Regions from separate parts of the Homo sapiens genome. Here region 2 is reported to be linked to region 1. Evidence: microRNA targets listed by miRTarBase, many of them from high-throughput screens and not tested one by one. Region 1 holds a microRNA gene; the other region holds the end of a gene's coding sequence.
What was found. The annotated mature microRNA hsa-miR-6746-3p reads CAGCCGCCGCCUGUCUCCACAG and lies in region 1 at 2,158-2,179, shown strand. An mRNA with a match to its seed (bases 2 to 7 or 8) in the 3' UTR can be bound and repressed. Matches are read on the target gene's strand: a 7mer-m8 pairs with bases 2 to 8, a 7mer-A1 pairs with bases 2 to 7 and ends in A, and an 8mer does both.

Region 2: miRTarBase lists CNTROB as a target of hsa-miR-6746-3p. Seed matches in the 3' UTR shown: 8mer at 2,431-2,438.

The regions. Positions count from the first base shown.
Region 1 is chr11:61,876,997-61,880,394 of GRCh38, reverse strand. MIR6746 (microRNA 6746) reads left to right here and starts at 2,117; the gene lies at 2,117-2,179. It overlaps FADS3 (fatty acid desaturase 3), which reads left to right. Exons shown (of 12, transcript NM_021727.5): 2 at 244-354; 3 at 886-1,083; 4 at 1,548-1,649; 5 at 1,761-1,883; 6 at 2,180-2,240; 7 at 2,808-2,884. RefSeq lists an enhancer at 519-1,228.
Region 2 is chr17:7,948,796-7,952,193 of GRCh38, reverse strand. It overlaps CNTROB (centrobin, centriole duplication and spindle assembly protein), which reads right to left. Exons shown (of 19, transcript NM_053051.5): 18 at 3,037-3,109; 19 at 2,274-2,809. The coding sequence ends at 2,684. Among named protein-coding and RNA genes, the nearest start is that of CNTROB, 18 kb to the right of the region's middle.

The DNA of each region.
Region 1 (3,398 bases):
GGCCCTTGTGCTGGGTGAAGTGGATGGGGCACAGCAGGCAATGGGTGAAAAGCAGGACAACCTGGGGCCCTGGGAGGACCAGGGAGGGCCCATGTCTTTGACTGTTCATCAGCCGGCTGACTTCCTGTCCGCCTGTCGTCTGCTCTGCCCATCCATCCGTAGTCCTTCCGCCTGTCTCTGCTGGTTGCCGCTGTGCTACTCAGCTGTGTCTGTCTGTCCGCCTGACTGTCTGCTCTCCTTCAGGATGCCTTCCGTGCCTTCCATCAAGATCTCAATTTTGTGCGCAAGTTCCTACAGCCCCTGTTGATTGGAGAGCTGGCTCCGGAAGAACCCAGCCAGGATGGACCCCTGAATGTGAGCCAGAGCCCTAGGAGAGGCTCAGCCCCTGAGGGAGGGGGATGGCTGGAGGGCTGGGAGACATTGCCACATGGCCAGGAGCAGCTCCCTCGGCATTCGCCCAAGGGGATGCAGAGCCAGGGCTGAGCCTGCCCTCCCCTCCCAGGGGGCAGGCAGTTGAAAGTGAAGCTGTAGGGATGCCCTGAGAAGTCCAGGGCTCCAGATCTGGTTTAGCCAGGCACCCGTTTGGATCCCGAGGCAAGCTCCCTCCCTGTTGTCGCCCAGTGTCCCCATCAAAAGGAGGATTTTGATGAACTGATTTCTCTCCTGGCTGTAGCGTCTTACCCACCCCATACCTTTTGGGAGGGAGAGGAGGCTTCACCACCAGCCAGTGCTCCAGCTCACACCCCGGGCTGGGTACTCTTGTCACTTCATTCCTCTTTGCCCACACCCCTTGGGCCTGGCGATGGGAGGAGCGGCTGGGGCTCCAGGAGAATGGGGGTGGGGAGGAATTTCTTCCTTGGCTGATCGGCCCCTCTGCTATGGCAGGCGCAGCTGGTCGAGGACTTCCGAGCCCTGCACCAGGCAGCCGAGGACATGAAGCTGTTTGATGCCAGTCCCACCTTCTTTGCTTTCCTACTGGGCCACATCCTGGCCATGGAGGTGCTGGCCTGGCTCCTTATCTACCTCCTGGGTCCTGGCTGGGTGCCCAGTGCCCTGGCCGCCTTCATCCTGGCCATCTCTCAGGTGACCCCAGTTCTGTGTTGCAGCCACCTTAACTGCCCAACAGACGTGGGCCCCCATGCATCTGGGCATTGTGAACATATTTGCTAAATGAATGAATGGACCTATGAAAGGATGAATGGATGAATAAACAGATGAATGAGTGAACAGTCTGAAGGCCCATCAGGCATGTCTGTGGGTCAAGCTGCATTCCAGATGAGCCAAGAAGTTCCTTCTTGAACAGATTCCGATCAAGCACAGGGCCACTGAGCCAGAGGCTGCTGCCCTGCAGCTTCATGACACTTACGAGCCCCTCCACCTCCCTGGGACTCAGTTCTCATCTGTAAAAAGAGGACACTGGCCCACAAGGGTCTTGAAATGGAGCATTAGCACGGGGGTACCCTGCAAGCTGAAAGGATTCACTGGGGCCCCAGGCCCTGGCGGGCTCCGTCCTTCCCAACAGCTTCTGACCCTGCCTCTCTCCCCAGGCTCAGTCCTGGTGTCTGCAGCATGACCTGGGCCATGCCTCCATCTTCAAGAAGTCCTGGTGGAACCACGTGGCCCAGAAGTTCGTGATGGGGCAGCTAAAGGTGAGGGTGGGGTGGGTGGTCAGCCAGGTGCTGGGTGGCGCTGGGTCTGCCCAAGTGTGTGGGCACAGTCGGGGGCACAGCCTGCCCTGAGAGCCCCCTCCTCCTCCACAGGGCTTCTCCGCCCACTGGTGGAACTTCCGCCACTTCCAGCACCACGCCAAGCCCAACATCTTCCACAAAGACCCAGACGTGACGGTGGCGCCCGTCTTCCTCCTGGGGGAGTCATCCGTCGAGGTGGGTGGGGAGGGACGTGGACAACCTCTGGCTGGGCCTGCAGCTGAGGGGGAGCTAATGCACTGGGTCCCCACTCTGCCCCTGACCTAGCCCCTGATCTGGCCTCCACTCTGGCTGGGCCAAGCTCTGCCCCCGTGTCTTTCCTTCCCACCTCCCAACCTGCTGGGGACGACCAGCCCGCTTGCTAGAATCTAGAGTTGCCTTTGACCCTTGGCCCCAGCCAGCCCCGTGACCTTGCCCGGGAGAAGGAGGTGGCCTGGAGAGCTGCTGTCTCCAGCCGCCGCCTGTCTCCACAGTATGGCAAGAAGAAACGCAGATACCTACCCTACAACCAGCAGCACCTGTACTTCTTCCTGAGTGAGTGTCCATCTGTCCTTCTGGGGTGGGGGAGTGCCTGGGCCTGCACTGTCCTCCCTGCTGTCCTGGACCACTCCCAGCCACTTCCTGGGGCGGGGCACGTCTGTCAGGTCTCCCTGGTCATGGCATCCTCCCAGCCTCTGCAGTCTGTACACACTCTCCCAGCAGCATGCCTTTGCCCCAGCTGTCTCCCGTGCCTGGGACACCTTGCAGCCACGGGCCATCACAGCCCTGCTGGGAGCTTCCCCAAGCCCCACGTAGAATTTCTTCTTGCCCTCACTAGAGTGGTCCGGAGCCCTAGAGTCTTTGGGCAGTTGTTGGGGCGGACAGAGTGAGGACTCAAGTCTGGCCCTGACTTGCGGTGAAGGGTGGTGGGAGGTGGTGGGGTAAGGGCAGCCTGGGGAGGCTTGGACACAGAATTGGGGGTGATATGGGGTCATTCAGCTGGATGTGACCAGCACCAACGTCCCAGGGGCATTCCTGGAGTAACAGAGCCCCTCACTCTGGCGCCCACTCACCTTGGCAGCCCAGCCCCACTCCTGAACACTCTCATGCCCCTTCTTGCAGTCGGCCCGCCGCTGCTCACCCTGGTGAACTTTGAAGTGGAAAATCTGGCGTACATGCTGGTGTGCATGCAGTGGGCGGTGAGTGGGGTTGCCCAGGACCCCGGGCATACGGCTGCCGTGGCAGGAGGTGGTGCCTCGGGGGACAGTACCTGCCCATGAAGGCAAACAGGGTGCACATGTGCGTGCAACAGTGTGGCTCACATGTATGCGTGCAACAGTGTGGCTCACATGTGTGCGCGCAGCAGGAGAGCGAGTGTGCCCGTGACTGTACGTGTGGTGGGGGGGGGTTGAGGAACAGGGGGGGTGTGGGTCTCTCTCGGTGAGGGTGTCTTCCCAGGAGGAGTTGCTGGGCTGACTCTGCCAGGCATCTGTGTCCCTGGCAGGGTCTTCCCCAACACACCCTGCATGACACCTTCGTCACTAAAATCAGCCTCGTGAGCTGGCAGGGCAAGGACCCTGTTCCTTTACTCAGCTGAGAAAACCAGAGAGGGTGGTGGCCTGTCCTGGGCTCTGAGGCAAATCAGGCAGAAGGGTTGGATGCCTGAGGTCCTCCTCCCACCCACCAGGCCTCCAGACCTCCGGGCACCTGGAG
Region 2 (3,398 bases), not on the chromosome of region 1:
GAACTGGGTGTTCACTTTACCAGCTATTAAAAACCGTAGCAAACCATCACCTACCAATGATGATAGTGTGCCATGAATCTGAGAGTTTGGTCAAACCAGTGTTACATATTTAAGGTAAAAAATAGAAAAGTAAACATTTCCATACGTGGGTAAACAGACAGGGCTGGAAAAGCCCTCAAGCCTGGGGCTGCTCCTGCGCCAGTGTGCCTCCAGTTTCTCCGCTGGTGCATGCCAGAGAGTGGTCCTGTGCGGGGCTGAGGATCAAGCCGTTCTGACACAGCTGAGCAGGGCAACCCACATGTCTGGTCATTCATCTTCACCTTTTCTTCCTTTGCCCGTCCCCTGGGGGCTAGAAAGTTACTTAGGTGGAAGTAAAATGCAAACATTAGTACAAAACACTCTATGAATCCACATCCTATCATGTGTATAACTCAGGGTCAGATAGAAGGGCCCTGCCTTCTTCTCAGAATCTGGTAAACTCTGTCCCTCAAACACCCACCTCTTACCTGCCAACACCACTTTCAGAATTGTACCTGCCATCACCACTACCCTGCACCATGTGCCAGAGCTGAGAGCTGCGTGTGAGTCTCAAGGTAGGATATCCTCTTCCAGTTTCAGTTTGACTGAGTGCTTTTCAGTGTTTGTACCATGAATTTGGGGCCTTTTTAAATTTCATGTCTACGTTATTTTCTTCCCTAGTATTGTTTTTCTTTGTCCATTTTAGTGAGCATTTAAATGGAAGTTTTATAAACATGGTTTAGTTTTCTTGCCAGCAGTCTATTTTTTTTCAATTTCAACTCTCTTTTTTTTTTTTTTTCAGACAGAGCCTTGCTCTGTCACCCAGTCTGGAGTGCAGTGGCACAATCTTGGCTTACTGCAACCTCTGCCTCTCAAGTTCAAGTGATTCTCCTTCCTCAGCCTCCCAAGTAGCTGGGATTACAGGTGCCCACTACCATGCCCGGCTAATGTTTTGTATTTTTTAATAGAGACAGTGTTTCACCATGTTGGCCGGGCTGGTCTCGAACTCTTGGCCTCAAGTGATCTGTCTGCCTCGGCCTTCCAAAGTGCTGGGATTACAGTGTGAGCCACCACACCCAGCCTCAATTTCAACTTTTATTTTAGATGCAGGGCATACATGTGCAGGTTTGTTACGTGGGTATATTGCACCTAGGTAGTGAGCATAGTACCATTAGGTAGTGTTTCAACCCGCGTCCCCCTCCCTCCCTCCCTCCCTGCTCTGGGAGTCTGCAGTATCTGTTGTTCCCAAGTCTATGTTCACATGTGCTCAATGTTTACTCCCACTTAGGAGAACATGTAGTATGAGGTTTTCTGTTCCTGCACTAACGCGCTTAATTAAGATTATAGCCTTCAGCTCCATCCATGTTGCTACAAAGGACATTATTTCATTCTTTTTCATGGCTGTGTGGTATTCCATGGTGTATATGTACATTTTCTTTATCCAATCCACCCCTGATGGGCATCTAGGTTGATTCTATGTCTTTGCTATTAAGAACAGTGTGGTAATGAACATATAAATGCATGTATCTTGTTGGAATAATGACCTATTTTCCTTTGGGTATATATCCAGTGATGTGATCGCTGGGTGAAATGGTAACTCTTAAGTTTTATGAGAAATCTCTAAACTGCTTTCCATAGTGGCGGAACTTACATTCCCACTGACAGCTATATAAGCATTCCCTTTTCTCTGCAGCCTCGCCAGCATGTTGTTTTTTGACTTTTTAATAATAGTCATTCTGATAGGTATGAGATGGTATCTCATTGTGGGGTTTTGCATTAAATTGATTTGCATTTCTCTGATGATTATTAACGAGCATTTTTTCAAATGTTTGTTGGCTGCTTGCATGTCTTCTTTTGCGAAGTGTCTGTTCAGGTCCTCTGCCCATTTTTTAATGGAGGTATTTGTTTTTTGTTTGTTGATTTAAGTTCCTAATAGATTCTGGATGTTAGACCTTTGTCAAATGCATAGTTTGAGAATATTTTCTCCCATTCTGTAGGCTGTCTGTTTACTCTGTCGACAGTCTCTTTTGCTGTGCAGAAACTCTTTTGTTTAATTAGGACCCAGCACTCTAGTCTTTTACACGTTTTAAAGCTGTAAGCGTGAAGACTATAGCAACAATATGTCTGCTGGCTGGAGTAGAATCTGCCAATCTGAATCCTACAAATGCAACCTGAAAGAATTATTTTCCCTTAGAAAACTTTCTCCCCAACAACCAAATTTTAACTCAAACTCTTTATACAATAACTTACTCTTATTAAAGTTTGGGTCTGTTCTGATTATTAAAGTAACATATACTTGTTTTAGAAAATTTGGAAAATACAGAAACGTATTAAAAAACTAAGAATCACCCATAATTCCACTACCACCCAGAGTTCATTGCTCTGCAGGTTTTAGCTTTGTCCACTGAATCTTAGCCGCCCCAACTTTCCAAATCTTGTCATAGACCGTCTTCCAAAGCATTCATGTCTTTTCCCACAGGAAATGACATATAAACATGTAACATATAAAAAAAGTACTCAACCAAATGTGGTTTCTTTACGAAGTGATTCCCTACAAAACCTCTATTTTCCAAATTCCTATGAGCCAGAGACTCTGATACAGACTAATGAGCATTTATTAAAATAACAACAATGAGAGAACAAAGAGGAGAGAGGGTAGGGGGGCTCATCTCCAGACTCCCCCCCGGCTCCTCATGCTACTCGGGGCAGGGTGCCCACTTTTCTTCCGTGCGGGAGGTTTTTCAGTCTTGGGGGCTGTAGCAAGGCGGCGAGGGACAGCCTGGGAGGGAATCTGAGAGTTGAGGGAAGAGAGAGGAAGAAATCAGCGTCAGATCCTCTCAATTCCCCACCCCACTGAGGAAATGCACGTGGAGAGGGCCAGATGAGTCTGCAGGGAGGAAAGGCCATGCTACAGAATGCAGGGGTGGAATGGAGGGGCCAGCCAGGAGTGTGCAGAGGTGAAGGAGCTGGTCAGTGAGAGCCCTTTTCTCCCCTGGTCCCTGCCTGACTTTCCCTCACCTCTTTCCGGGGGATCTCACCCAAGCGGGAGTCTGTGTTCCTTCTGGGGACATTATCCCCTCGGCCATCAGTCCTGCTACACAAATCAAAGGTATGAGGATGGGGATCTCCGTCCCCCCGGTTACCCAATACTGGATGGAAGAACTACTCCCCAATTCTATCTCTTAAGAATAAGATCAAACTCGATAGACCTGGGCATCAACTGGGAGGAGACATTAGTGGAAGTAAATAACGAGTTACACTAGCTAGTCAAAAGTCTAGGATTCTGAGTTTTGAGCTGAGGGGTAAAGAGGAAAAAAACGAAGGTAGAGAGACCCGGGGAAAAGATTTTTTTGTTTAGAAGAAAAAAGCAATAGAAAGGA